Linked DNA regions of Homo sapiens. The main gene of each other region encodes a partner of the protein of the gene in region 2 in a complex. Each region holds a gene or a part of one and is shown on either strand. Other genes may lie near its edges.

The links.
Region 1: the proteins of MLXIPL (region 2) and YWHAB are in contact, whole or in part, in a crystal structure (PDB 6YGJ), measured with the Homo sapiens proteins. Residues at the interface, in NP_116569.1 of Homo sapiens: Asp118, Ile120, Arg121, Asn124, Ala125, Trp127, Arg128, Ala129, Trp130, Tyr131, Ile132, Tyr134; in NP_003395.1 of Homo sapiens: Gly55, Arg58, Ser59, Trp61, Arg62, Ser65, Ser66, Gln69, Lys70, Arg129, Val178, Tyr181, Glu182, Asn185, Leu218, Gln221, Leu222, Asp225, Asn226, Leu229, Trp230.

What each region holds. Positions count from the first base shown.
Region 1 is NC_000020.11:44,902,441-44,909,032, reverse strand, and holds the end of YWHAB (14-3-3 protein beta/alpha), read right to left. Parts: intron 6,136-6,592; coding exon of another isoform or gene 6,115-6,135; exon of another isoform or gene 5,041-6,114; coding exon 4,917-5,040; intron 4,066-4,916; coding exon 3,902-4,065; intron 3,033-3,901; coding exon 2,937-3,032; intron 2,652-2,936; coding exon 2,595-2,651; 3' UTR 501-2,594; downstream 1-500. UniProt on the Homo sapiens protein: Adapter protein implicated in the regulation of a large spectrum of both general and specialized signaling pathways. Binds to a large number of partners, usually by recognition of a phosphoserine or phosphothreonine motif.
Region 2 is NC_000007.14:73,620,910-73,629,037, reverse strand, and holds the start of MLXIPL (carbohydrate-responsive element-binding protein), read left to right. Parts: upstream 1-4,515; 5' UTR 4,516-4,545; coding exon 4,546-4,838; intron 4,839-4,973; exon of another isoform or gene 4,974-6,254; intron 6,255-8,128. UniProt on the Homo sapiens protein: Binds DNA as a heterodimer with MLX/TCFL4 and activates transcription. Binds to the canonical E box sequence 5'-CACGTG-3'. Plays a role in transcriptional activation of glycolytic target genes. Involved in glucose-responsive gene regulation.

The DNA.
Region 1 (6,592 bases), on a different chromosome or scaffold from region 2:
ACCCCTCTATCCTGATATTTTTCTCTCCTTGTGGTAATGTGGATGTTTTCAGAAGGGGCAAATCCTGTGAGGAACCAGCTCTGCAGGCCACCATACAGTGTGAGGACAGGTGAGACGCCAGCTTGGTGATGACCAAGACTTATGCAACCATAGGTTACCTATTTCACTGGCTTGGTTGTATCTCAGAGTTAAAAAATGGGGAAGGGATGGTGGGCTCGAATACAATGCAAAATAACTGTCCATACCAAATCTTAGAAGTCACTAAAGAGGACCTAATACCTGCATGGTTTGTTGTGGAAGGTAGAGAGGTATCAAGTAACGGGTGTAAAGAGGCTGTTTAATTAATGGTAATTTCTTCCCCTGGATAACACCTTGACTTCTGGTCCTAAATAATGAAATAAAACTGTTTGCCTATTTTTAAAGAAAACAGAGTTAAAAATAAGTGTGATCAGAATAGTTAGCTAGGTCTGGTAACAACAGAGATGGTGGTGACACATCAATTCACAGGCAACTAACTGATAAAATTTTTATTTCACTTTTGAATTTTTACACTTTTCCTGATTATTCTGTGTAAGGTGAAACTAGAACTGTTTAAAAGACATACACAAATCTAGTACATCAATAACCGGGGATTTTTCTTTTTTGCTATACTATTTTCACAACCACGGGTGTGCTTGCTAGGCAATATAACCATCACAGAAGCAAACGTTAGGCAGAATACTGGTAAGAAAAAACAAAGCAAGAAAAGAGCTACCAGATATACAGACAGGCTTGGTTCCACATTCACTACTGCATTTTCAAGCGCCAAGTATTAACTGCACATTTTTGTTCAGCTAGAAAGGAGGGATTTTTTTTTTTGTTTTTTTCTTTTTTTTTGGTTTGTTTTAAATCAGTGCATAAATTTTTCTTTTCTCATTTCAGCAGATGGACAAACAGATGGACTCTACAGCTAAGTGGAATATCAAAGGTAGAGGGGTGATTCTGTGAGACTGATAGGCCTGACTATTCTCAATTCTCCCCACTGCAGTGTTCACGCAACTTCCCTGAATATAGGGTCTCCTTAAACACATCTGAGCACTGACCTGGATGAGTGCACTTGGGAGACCTGGTGACAGGCACAAAAAGCATGATCAGGGCTAGCCTCAATACAGGGAGAAATCATGGATATTTAAAAATACTTTTTTGATTCAGATTCCGGTATGACTGAAGAGCAACACCGTGTTGAGAACTGGAGGAAGACAGGGTTCTGGTGCCAGAAGCTCTTCTCCAATCTTTAAAGCCAGGCTTGCTCACCAAGGTGCTCAGTAATGTCTCTCACCCCTGCCCATATATAGCATTAAAAAGTGAACAAAAGACAGATAAAGATAGAATTCAAAAAGGAAAAAAAGTAAGGAAGCAGAGGGACAGAAACTTAGAAGAGAAAACCAAGGTCAACAGTCAAAAAGGATGGTGGGAAAGAATGTTTAGATTTCAAAATTTAAAAGCCCCGAGCTAGGAAGAACCTGAAAACTGAGTACTCCTCAAGTGAAAGGCCATCTCTACAGAACATCATTCCTTTTTTTGTTTTTTGTTTTCTTTTTTGGAGATGAGGTCTCGCTATGTTGCCCAGGCTGGAGTGCAGTTATTCACAGGTGCAACCACAGGGCACTGCAGCTTTAAACTCCTGGGCTCAAGCGATCCTCCTGCCTCAGCCTCCCAAATAGTTGGGACTAGATGCACGCACCACCACGCCTGACTCAGGACATTATTCTTAAAGGTATTATCCAGGAAACAGATAAGGTCATTCATAAAACACACGGCTTTTTTTCTTTAGCTCAGTGTTAACAATGAAAGTAGATTCCACTATTGAAGCACAAGTTGCAAATTGGTAACATAGTGAACATATTGCTGTAGGAAAGGGGGTTCAGTGTGGTGTGTTATATGAGCACTTGAACTTTTCAAGGTGTCATAAGCCAGTTATCTGCCACAAAGAATTTCCATTTCAGGATTCGAGTTTCCTCAGAGGAAGACACTGTGGACATTTGTGGTCATGAACTTTTAAGTGGCAACAGCCCAAACAGGTCAAGTGTCTTTAAGTCCCGAACAACGGCAGCATTACTGTGAATTACCATTCAACTCAAATGCCAAATGATGTGTGTCTCACTCCAAGTTCCAGCATCACAATATAATCTCTATAACTTTCTGTACAACTTTACAATGGAATTGTATTTCAATGATTATTTTGATATCAGATTAAACCTTCCAAAAAGTTACACATAATTCAGGTCTATTTTTTCTACCAGTAAGAGTTCTGCTAAATTACAAAACCCCATAATCACAGTGTTCAGTTTTTAAAAAATTAAACACACAGTAATCCTGTCAATGTTAATCAAAATCAAAACTTCGGAATGCCGTGGCATTTATGTGACCAATCTGAGTTTTAGATACAAATACCAGCTGTTTATCCCATGAACCATTTTTCCTAGGCTGAGGCTGTGAAAAATCGAAAGTCGACGTACGATTCTCTTTTTTTTTTTTTTTTTTTTTTTATCGCACAAGGGATATATGTTGAGGGTACAGAGTGACACTGAACAGATCACAAAGCACGAGAAACATTAGTTCTCTCCCTCCCCAGCGTCTCCTTCGTCTCCCTGGTTTTCCGATGTCCACAGCTGCAAGAGAAAGGAAGTATAATCAAAGCAGGGCTACTAAAAGTTCCCTAGGTAAGTGGCCCAGTATGTATAATCTTATCTCACTCGACAGTTTAAAATTATTCCTGTGTCACTGCAGACAGGGATGATTGCAAAGGTCAAAACTTCAGCAGTCATTTATAACAAATTTAACAACTTAAAACTGTAACTACATTTAATGGTACAAATCCCCTCTTGAAGATAACAGTGAATTATTAAGTAGGTGAATAGGAAAGAGACTATAAACCCTGTGGAAGTAGTACTTACAGTGAGATTGTCCCTAAGTAACTGCATGATCAGAGTGCTGTCTTTATAAGACTCTTCATTCAGCGTATCCAATTCAGCAATTGCTTCATCAAATGCCTAAAACAAAGAGCCTTTAGCAAAGAATTCACAAGTTCTCTGGAGCTAGTTTAGCCCACTTTTTTTCCCGCTAGGTGAATATAACTTATCTTCTTGTACAGTACTTTGGGGGAACCTAGGCTATTATTACCCTGTCTGTTAGCTGTTTCCAGCAGAAGTATAAGGCATATTTACAAAGCACCAACCAACAATGACAGAAACTCCAAGGTAAGAACTTTGCTGTACCTAATAACTAAGCAGTATTACTGCTAACCCTAGCACAGTCATTCTGGGCAAACGCGTGTGATTTTTTAATTACCAAAGACTTTTCTAGCAATCTTCTATTTAAAATTATTTATTTATTTAAACTAAAACTCAAAATGTCTGGAAACTCACATCACTAAATCTGATTTAAGTGACGGAACTTTAAGGCACCTTTCCCGAATAAAAATGTTTTTAAAAAGTTGTGTGCATGTTGAGGGACTATAAAAAATATGTAGAGAAGGCCAAAGGAAGAATATGGAAGGTAATCCAACACACAACAAGAATGTGCTGTGTATTTCTTTTATACAACTATAACCTCAAATCTTGGCATGAGAATGACAATGTATAACCAAGGCCCAAAGCTTGGTAAGAAACAACTAACTACATTCACCTGGAACTTTCTACAACCACCCGCAAAAAACAGTAATCAAACAAAGTCAGCAGAAGGTATTGAGAATGAATTAAAAAAGTAACAGATCTGTATTTATCTCATAAAAGATACACTCCCACCCCCAGAAAATCTTTCAAAAAAAGTCCAAGACAATGAGTATGTTCAGGAATAAAATGAAGTTAATAACACAAGCACTGTTTTGCTATGGTTAGATATCACAAAGGGTCTTTCTCACCGTTTTTGCCAGGCTACAGGCCTTTTCAGGAGAGTTTAGAATCTCATAGTAAAAGACTGAGAAATTTAGTGCCAGACCAAGACGAATTGGGTGTGTAGGCTGCATTTCTTTCTTACTAATTTCAAATGCTTCCTGGTAAGCCTGCTGGGAGTTCGACACAGTGGCTGTAACATAAAGATGAAAATATTAAAGGCTCGGTTCTTTCATAGGTATCACACATTGGACCAACTATCAAATTATTTTCTCAGTCCCAAACTGGGCAGGAGCAATGACCTATCAAATGAAGTGTCAGTGTCTCTGCCATTCAATTATACATTTGTTAGATATTTATTCTAAACCAAGTTGTATATTAAATGCTTTGGGGGAAAACAATTATGACAAAGTCTACTAAAGCAGTTAAATACAGCTATAACCTTTAACAATATAGAATGTGAAAAACCATACATTCTAGTGCAAACATCACAGGCTTTAGAGTCGATAGATCCAAACTTTAATTCCCAACTCTTACTCCCTAGGTCTGTGGCTTGGGGCAAGTAGAAACCTCCATAAACCTCAGTTTATATGAAAAATGGGCAGCCTGCCACCTAACTCGTAAGGCTGTGTGAAGAGTAAGTGAGACTCGGAAGTACTTGGCACAGAAGCACTTAATAAAGTGTGGTTAAGATTACCACCATCACGGTAATACATGTGATAAATGCAATGCATCACTAGGGTAGTTTCGTACCACCAAGTATAAAAAGTTCACTGCTAAAAAGAGAGCTAACAAATAATACTCAAGATAAGATCTTTTTAAATACACTGCGCACCAGGTTTGTAATGCCCTCCATACTTCCCTGTCAGATAAATTTTTATTTGCCCGCCCATGACCCCGTTCGTCACAATGCTGTGGTCTTTTAAATTCTTAGTACTGTGACATTGGTGTCTATGGCGAACAAAGCAAAAATCGTTAAAAAGTCCCTGTGAAAGAAGACTGGCTCCATTACTGGTCGAATTTCTTTTTAAAGATATTACTTACTTTGTTTGTTGTCTCCAGATGCCACTTCAGAAAGATACCTAAAATAATCTCCTTTCATTTTCAAGTAGAACACCTTACTTTCTGGTTGTGTAGCATTGGGAATAAGATATTTGTCCAACAGCTCCTAAAAAATGAACATTGTTAAGAATTTAGAATTATTCACGAGATGTTAAAACTATGTTTGAGATTCAAGATATACACTACTGCTTCTAAATAATTTTTTGGAAGATTAAAAAAACACCAATTTTTCATCCAAGCTACTAAATGTTGTTTAGCCCAGGTCATAACAGCAGATGCCTGTATTCTTCTGTTAAAAATCACTTTGACCATCCATAGGGGATAATTAAAGTATAGCCATATAATGAAATGTTTTGTAGGCCTTTAAAATGATGCAGAGCTAAACAGATAATGGAAAGGCTCTCAAAAGAAATCTGAGTGGAAAAAAAGCAGATTATAAATACCACAAGAATCCTATTTTAACATTAAGATACATTTGTGTACATGCTCACAAATATATAAGGGAAAAGCCTGGAAGGAGTATGTTAATAATGGTTCTCTGGGTGGTAAGATTAGAAGTGATTTTTACTTTCTTATTTATATTCTTCTGACTTGTTCCCCCCACCATTTTTAAACCCACAAACTGGTATTACTTCTATAATTAAAGGGGAAAAAATATCTTTCCTTAGGAGGAAAAAGGTGATAATAGAGCAAAACTGCCAAGAACTAAGTTTAAAGTCAATCTGACCTGGGTAGAAATCCCTCTTCTGCCACTTATTATCTGTATGACTCTGGACAAATTACCTAATCACTTTGAGCCTCACTTTCCTCAGCTATACGAAGGGTCATCTTCTAGGGTATAGCCATCTTCTAGGGTAGTTATAATGATAAATAAGTTGACATACATAAAGCGCTTAACACGTTGCCTGGCACGTAGTAAGCACTCAAAGAGTAGCTAATACTATTAATAATAAATTCCTTTAAACATTTATGCTTACAACAAAAGTAGTTCTGAAGGAGTCCAAGCTTCGTATACAGAGCAATATTTTCGAAGAGTTGTTTTAGAATGTGGCATCCTGAAAAACTGGTTAAGAGGCAGTAAGTACCAAGCTCTTCTTCACATTCTTTCAGATGCTCTTAAAAGTTGGTCTACATTTCATGAATTATGGAACTTTCTTGCCCTTGGAATGCATGACATACTTCATCTGAATACCAGATGTACCTAACATTCAGGAATTAGTGCACCATTAACAAACCCCCAAATTACCAACAGGCAACAAATTTAGTCATGACACTCTTACGCCATGAGTCTAATAAAAAGAGAAGCTCAATGCAAAGCTTAGTTATAAGGGGATTTAATCAACCAAAGTGAGAAGATGCAGGGGGCGGCAGTCGTTTTAATATTCTTTGTAGACAGACAGTGTGTAACTCCTAATAGGTTAGGGATAAGGGGTGCTGCCTGATGGCTGACAAGCTTTATACTGGTTTTCAAAAGAAAGGAGTCATGGGCAGTAATTTAGAAAGGCAGCCAGCAGGGAAGGTGGTAGGTCCCCAAGTGTGAATTCCTTTTCCCTTCAAAGCAGCCCTCGCTGAGTTCATTTTTACCTGATTTCACCTGGAAGAAAAAGAAAGTTCCCAATGGCTCAGGATGTGCGGGAAAGACAATATGATTATGATTT
Region 2 (8,128 bases):
GAACAAGGGTGGTGGGAACTCAGAAATAACCTGGAGAACTTGGGGAAGATGTCATAGGTGGGACTTCAAGGACAGGTGGGCTTTCCCAACAAGGAAGGGCAGGCTGGGTGAAGAGCCCTGAGGACCAAGACTGGAAGGCAGAGAGGATGTGACATCAGGTGGGATGGCTGGGGACAGCCAGGTATTCACACCACAGTTAGGATCTTGTCTTGCATCTCCATGGACCATGAACAAGACTTGTTTGTACAGAGGCTGTAAACTGCTGGCTATAGTAACAGAGGCTAGAGAAGCAGCAAGAGCGTGAGCCAGCTTACATGTACATGGCTGTGCTATTATCTGGGCAATGGTGCCCTGAACAGGGGGTGCGGCGCCTGTGGTCCCATTACAAGTGGCTCACACTTCTAATCCCAACACTTTGGGAGGCTGAAGTGGGAGGATCACTTTGGCCCAGGAGTTTGAGGCTGCAGTGAGCTATGATTGTGCCACTGCACTCCAGGCTGGGTGACACAGCGAGACCCTGTCTCTAAACACAGGAGAAATCAGAATCTGTGGACGTCCTTGCATTTATTGGACACTCTAGTGTTTGGATGTTTTGCATTGTGCAGTCAGGGTTTGTCTTTTCAGCGGTTAGGCTTCTAGAGGTGTTATTAAGCCCTGGAGGAGGGCAGAAATGAGATGCAGATGCCTGTTGAGGGGCAATTCATGGCTGGGGAAGGAGGGATGTTGGGTGAAGGAGAGAATTCACTCATAATCTTCCCACCCGCTCAGATCCAGCTCAGAGGAAAGTCCCTGAAACCGCAGGAGACAACTCTGATGTTTTCAGAGCATGGGGAGAGCACGGTGGGGTGATCTGGAGACACGGCCAGCAGAGACTTGGAGCCAAGATTCCTGGATCCCCAACAAATCACTGAATTCAGGCCAGGCACAGTGGCTCATGCCCGTAGTCTCAGCACTTTGGGAGGCCGTGGTGGAAGGGTCGCTTGAGCCCAGGTGCTCGAGACCAGCCTGGGGAATATAGTGAGACCTCATCTTTACAACAGCAAAAAGAAGAAGAAAGAAAGAAAGCACTGAGTTTGGCCCTCAATTTTACAGGTAGTGAGACAGATCGCCAGTAAGACAGAGAGACAGAGATCTCCCCAGTGTTACTCATGGAATTAGCAGCAGAGCAAGGATCAATTCCGGTCTTCACCTGAGCCAGGGTCCCCGGAGCCAGGAGGTCCCAAGCCAGAGGCGAGGGCGGAGCTGACACTTCCTATCCAACCTCCTCCACAGCACCCCACCCGCTCCTCTTAGTCTCATGCCCCTTTCTTCAAGCATCCCCCAAGTCTCCAGGTACCCAGTGTGGGGGTTCAGAGATGCTAGGACACAGTCTTGCCTCAATGGCCTACGGAGGAATAGGGGGAGAAGCCAGACAGGCATATAGGGGTAAGTAATGATCCTGTCAGCCTCTGTACCAAGGGCCTCAAAAGACGGTTAACTGCCACCTGAGAGCTGGCCACGGTGGCTCACGCCTGTAATACCAGCACTTTGGGAGGCTGAGGCAGGTGGATCACTTGTGGTCAGGAGTTCAAGACCAGCCTGGCCAACATGGTGAAACCCCATCTCTACTAAAAATACAAAAATTAGTCGGGCATGGTGTTACACGCCTGTAATCCCGGCTACTTGGGAGGCTGAGGCAGGAGAATCGCTTGAGCCCGGGAGGCGGAGGTTGCAGTGAGCTGAGATCATGCCACTGCACTCCAGTCTGGGTGACAGACTGAGACTGGCTCAAAAAAAAAAAAAAAAAAGAGGGCCACTTGGGGATGGCTCTCTGAAGCAGGGCAGAGCCCCTCCAAAGGAGGGAGAGTGGGGTGAGCATCAGAACCCCCTTTCCTAACCTGGCAGGGATGGGCAGAGAGAATGCACATCCTACAGAGGGCAGCAGGGAGGATGGAGCAGAACAGCTGGGGCTCCTGGGAATGTGATGCGAACATTTGGCAGAGACAGAAGATACCCGGCCAAGGGAGGTGGGTGGAAGGGCTGGCCTGTGAGCAGCCTTGGATAATCACTTTCCTCCCACAGCCAGTGGCTGGGGCCCTCAGGGCACTGCCATTGTGATCCTAGGTGCTGTGTGATCCTCCTGTGGGCTGGAAGAAAGTGCTGCATGTCAACCTTTTCCAAGGCTGCCACACATGGGAAACCACCTCCTCCGCTTTCCCTAACATGACCACACACAGGATACCTGTCAGAAAGCCAGCAGAGCTTAGCATGTGCCTACAACTCTTTCCTGTCCCCACCCACTAGGGACATCCTTGGGGGAAATCTGGAAATCTACTAGACCAGGCTTTGCTGCTGCCCCTCAGAGATGCTTGGGTGTGTTTTTGCTCTCCTGTGCCTCTGAACCCATCTTTGAGGCTGTTAGTTAAACGCTCCAGTGAGGTGTCAGGTGTGAATGCCTCAGTCTGGTTTCTGTCCTCAAGGTGAGAAAAGAGGCTTCAGAAGCAGAAAGGCCATGTACAGTGGCTCACACTTGTAATCCCAAAACTTTGGGAGGCTGAAGCAGATTTCATCTCTACAAAAAAAAAAAAATTAGCCAGGTTTGGTGGCATGAGCCTGTAGTCCCAGCTACTAGGGAGGCTGAGGTGGGAGGATCGCTTTGGCCCAGGAGTTTGAGGCTGCAGTGAGCTATGACCGTGCCTCTGCACTCCAGCCTGGGTGACAGAGCGAGACCCTGTCTCTAAAAATATATAAATAGGCTGGGCACGGTGGCGCATGCCTGGAATCCCAGCACTTTGAGAGGCTGAGGTGGGCAAATCGCTTTAAGGTCAGGAGTTTGAGACCAGCCTGGCCAGCATGGAGAAACCTCGTCTCTACTAAAAATACAAAAATTAGCTGGGCATGGTGGCGGGCACTTGTAATCCCGGCTACTCAGGAGGCTAAGGCAGGAGAATCGCTTGAACCAGGGAGGCAGAGGTTGCAGTGAGCCGAGATCGTGCCATTGCACTCCAGCCTGGGTGACAGAGTGAGCCTCCGTCTCAAAACAATAAATAAATAGAAGTATATAGATAAATAAAAATACAAAGAAGCAGGAACAAAAGCTGGACCTCAGTGTCAGTGAGAGAAGGGGCTCAGAGCTCCTGGGTAGATGCCTGCCTAGGGGATGTCCACCTTCCAGTGAGCCACCCATCCCTACCAGTAACAGTCCCTCGAGGCTCCCCTTGGGCCTCTCTGTGCAGGTGAAGTAATGATCACAATTTTTTTAATATATATTTTTTCTTAAGTATTTTATTTTGTTTTTGAAACAGGATTTCACTGTTGCCCAGGGTGGAGTGCAGTAGGGCGCGATCTCGGCTCACTGCAACCTCCACCTCTTGGGCTCATGTGATTCTTCCACCTCAGCCTCCCGAGTAGCTGGGATTATAAGCCAAGCACGCATCGTCACATCCGGTAATTTTTGTATTTTTAGTAGAGAAGGGGTTTCTCCATGTTAGCCAGGCTGGTTTCGAACTCCTGGCCTCAAGTGACCCACCCACCATGGCCTCCCAAAGTGCTAGGATTGAAGGCGAGAGCCACCGCGCCCGGCCACCGTGTTGGCCACCATGTTAACTAGAGGTGTTAGCAACCTCCTGTGGGCCAGGCCCTTCAGGGGCATTACCTTGGGCTTACCACATCAGGCCCCTGAGAGTTGGGGGCTTCTACCTATGTGGAGGACCCAGAAGAGCTAATATGGGGGGCGGGGGTTGGAGGTGAAGGGCAGGAGTTAGGTGAGGGGAGATGGTGATCTCTGGCCTCACAGGAGGGTGCCCCTGAAAGAACAAACCCCAGGTCCTGAGGCGCTTTCAGGCTCAGGTGTGATAGGGGACCCTTTTGTTGTGGAGACAGGGTCTCACTCTGTCATCCAGGCTGGAGTGCAGTGGCGCGATCTCCGCTCACTGCAGCCTCAACCTCTTGGTCTCAAGCGATTCTCCCACTTCAGCCTTCGGAGTAGCTAGGACTACATGCACACGCCACCATGCCTGGATAATTTTTGTATGTTTGGTAGAGACAGGGTTTTGCCATATTGTCGAACTCCTGGGCTCAAGGAATCCTCCCACCTCAGCCTCCCCAGTAGCTGGTATTACAGGCTTTCTCCACTATGTCCGGCTAATTTTTGCATTTTTTTGGTAGAGATGGGGGTCTTGCCATATTGCTCAGGCTGGTCTCGAACTCCTGACCTCAAGCCATCCTCCCGCCTTGGCCTCCTAAAGTGCTAGGATTACAGGCAAGAGCCCCTGGCGTCCGGCCTGACCTTTCTTAATATCCCTTTGGAGCAAAGTAGGGGCGGCTCTATCAGGACTCCAAGGAAAGACGGGAAGGGAGATGGGGCCAACCCGCCAGAGCTCCAGAGCACCGGGTTCTCACCTGGCGTAAGGATTATGCTAATACAAGCCCCGCCCCGTCCCAGGCCCCGCCCACCCGATCGGCCTATGGTGTGGGGGCGGGGCTATGTTAATGAGGCCCGGCTGGCCAAGAGCTGTTCCCCGCGCTGCGCGGAGCAGGGACCAGGCGGTTGCGGCGGCGACAGCCATGGCCGGCGCGCTGGCAGGTCTGGCCGCGGGCTTGCAGGTCCCGCGGGTCGCGCCCAGCCCAGACTCGGACTCGGACACAGACTCGGAGGACCCGAGTCTCCGGCGCAGCGCGGGCGGCTTGCTCCGCTCGCAGGTCATCCACAGCGGTCACTTCATGGTGTCGTCGCCGCACAGCGACTCGCTGCCCCGGCGGCGCGACCAGGAGGGGTCCGTGGGGCCCTCCGACTTCGGGCCGCGCAGTATCGACCCCACACTCACACGCCTCTTCGAGTGCTTGAGCCTGGCCTACAGGTGAGGGCGGTTCCGGGCCCTGACGGCCTTGGCTTCCAGGTGGGGATGGGGGGGGGGTCCGGGGCAGGACTGCGCGCTGGGGCCCTCAACACCCCACCCGAGCCCGGTCCTGCGGCTCCCGGAGGCTCCGATCACGCCCTGGACACCCCCTTTCTCCCAGCCCCGAGGTCCTCCTACAGCGGCCCAGCCCGCTGGCCCCTGACGGACCCACGCATTTCTGATTCCCATTCCTCCCCCATTCCCTCTTCCCCGAAGCGCAGACCGCCTGCGCCCCACCTCTACCTGGACCTCTGGTCCCCTCTCTCTGGTCCCAGCCCCTCCGTCCCTACAAAAATGCCAGGCGCCCCTGGTCCCTAGGCCACCCGCGCCCATCCCCACTCTCCACTCTGGAGCCACTCCACCCGACCCCCTGCAGGCCTCGGCCTTCTCCCCAGCAGCCCCGGCCCAAGCCCGCCCTATTCCTGGACCCTGAGATACTCCCAGCGCCCCTGATTGTCCCAGTTCATAACCAAAGTGGACTGGAACTGGCCCACTCTCACGTCCACCTCCCCGCAATTGCTGAGACACCTCTTCTTGATCTGCTACATTAAGGGTGGCGGGAGGAGGATGTCCCAGAAATGTCCAAGAGGCGCAGCTCGCAGAGGTTACGCCGGTGCCCGGGAGGCCTGGGTTCGCCTACCCACGTCGCCACACTAGGCTGAGCGCCCGTCGCTGCCTGGGACCCCCGCTTAGTGCCACCGAGAGCGCACAGGCCGCGCCCCGCTGCCGCTCCACGCCCCGCGTCCCAGAGGAGGGCGCGAACCCGAGGCCTGGCCCAGTGCCCTGGAGCAAAGTTCCCCGGAGTTGAGGGGCCAGTATAAATTATCAACCGAAAACCCGTAGGGGAGAAAGGGGGATCGGCCGGCCTTGATCTTTTCTCTGTGCAAATATTCCTCTTCCTCCGCGGCGCCTCCTCCCCTTCTGAGAACCGCTGGCTACAGATCGGCACCTGCCGCCCTGCGGGGGAGCAGGAGCTGGGGTGGGGACTGTGAGGGGAGTGTTGCCTGCCCCCAACCGCAGCCGCCCAGCTGCGACCCCATTGGCTGGAGGCGGAGTAACCTTGGCCCACAAGCTCTGGCCCCTGGCCCAGGTCATGTTGCAACCCGATCGGCCAGGGCGTCGGACCCGTGTGGAAAGTTCAAATTCCCGTCCCTTCTCCCTCCCTCCCCAAATGTCACGCGACTGCCTGGGACAGGGCATCTAAGGTCCTGGTACACCGGATGCCGGCACTCCTCCTCCTAAGGGTCTCCCATTTCCCACCCAACCCCAACTTTGGCTGCTCATTATATACTACACATCACTCTATTTGGGAGGGGGCCTCACTTCCAACCCTGACGATGGGTGACCAAAGAGGAGAGGTTCTGGGGAGCTGGCAAGGTAAGGGACAGAGCGCACCCCCAAAATTGCCCCCCCACCCAGAGGCTGACTCAAGGCTGATGTAACCCCAGTCAGAGATAGCTGGGGTAGAGAGGACTGTGTTTTCTTCCCAAATACCCAAATATTAATAGTAAATCTCTGGCTGGGCACAGTGGCTCCTGCCTGTAAGCCCAGCACTTTAGGAGGCCAAGGTTCTCATCCAAGGATTGCTTGAGCCCAGGAGTTGGAGACCAGCCTGGGCAACATACTGAGAACCTGTCTCTACCAAAAAAAAAAAAATTTTTTTTTTTTTTTGAGACAGAGTTTTGCTCTTGTTGCCCAGGCTGGAGTGCAGTGGTGCCATCTCAGCTCACTGCAACCTCTGCCTTCCGGGTTCAAGAGAATCTCCTGCCTCAGCCTCCTGAGTAGCTGGGATTACAGGCGCCCACCACCTCCAGCTAATTTTTTGTATTTTTAGTAGAGACGAGATTTCACCATGTTGGCCAGGCTGGTCTCAAACTCCTGACCTCAGGTGATCCACCTGCCTTGGCCTCCCCAAGTGCTGGGATTACAGGCATGAGCCAACATGCCTGGCCAAAAAAAATTTTCTTTAATCAGCCAGGTGTGATGGCACATTCCTAGTACCAGCTACTGGGGAGTCTGAGGTGGGAGGATCACTTCAGCCCAGGAGGTTGAGGCTCCAGTAAGACATGATGGTGCCACTGCACTCCACCCTGGGTGATAGAGTGAGACCTTGTTGGAAGGAAGGGAGGGAGGGAGGGAGGGAGATGGGGGGAGGAAGGAAGGAAGGGAGGGAGGGAGATGGAAGGAGGGAGGGAGATAAAGGAGGGAGGGAGATGGAGAGAGGGAGATGGAGAGAGGGAGATGGAGGGAGGGAGGGAGATAGAGGGAAATGGAGGGAGGGAGATGGAGGAGGGAGGGAGAAGGAGGGAGGGAGGGAGATGGAGGGAGGGAGACGGAGGGAGATGGAGGGAGGGAGAGGGAAGGAGATGGAGGGAGGGAGGAAGGGAGAGAGGGAGGAAGGGAGGGAGGGAGGGAGATGGAGGGAGGGAGGGAGCTGGAGAGAGATGGAGGGAGGGAGGGAGATGGAGGGAGGGAGGGAGATGGAGGGAGATGGAGGGTTGGCTCGGTACCAGGAGAGCTTCTAGATTTCCCCATTTGGTAGTGGAAAAGCCCTGAGGCTTGAACTGGGACAGTGTTTTCATCCTCAAAGACCCCCAGTTCCAGGGGTCCCCTGGAGGGGAGCAGATTACAGGAGCTGAGTGTCCCAGGGGAGTGACTATATGGGAAGAGACAGTAAGGCAGAGAGTTCAGAAGGTGGTGGGAAGAACAGCGAGCTTGACCAGGGACCCACCTGAATCAGGGACCAGCCTGACCCAGAGACCAGCCTGCAGAGGCCTGGCAAGGTTTCACCCTCTGCAGGTTAGCGTGGGCAGAGGGAGGATCGAGGAGGCCGTCTTCCATGGCTCCGTGGGTGGAAGCCCCAGGGAGGTAGTTTCTGGAAGCTTCAAGGAAGCACTTGTTCATGGTCAGAGCTGGCTAGCTTTAGGAAGAGTGGCCTTGAGGGTGCAGGGGAGCAAACAGGACCTGGTTAGGGGGCAATCTAAAAGGAATTCCTGAAAGGTGGGAGGTGGGCAGCTGAACTTGGGGTTTTCTCAACCCCCTCTCTAAGTCTCAGAGTTTTCTTCTCCTTCTTATTATTTATTTATTTATTTATTTATTTATTTATTTTTGGAGACAGAGTCTCACTCTGTTGCCCAGGCTGGAGTGCGCTGGCATGATCTCAGCTCACTGTAATCTCCGTCTCCTGAGTTCAAGCGATTCTCATGTCTCAGCCTCCAGAGTAGCTGAGGTAACAGGCATGTGCCACCATC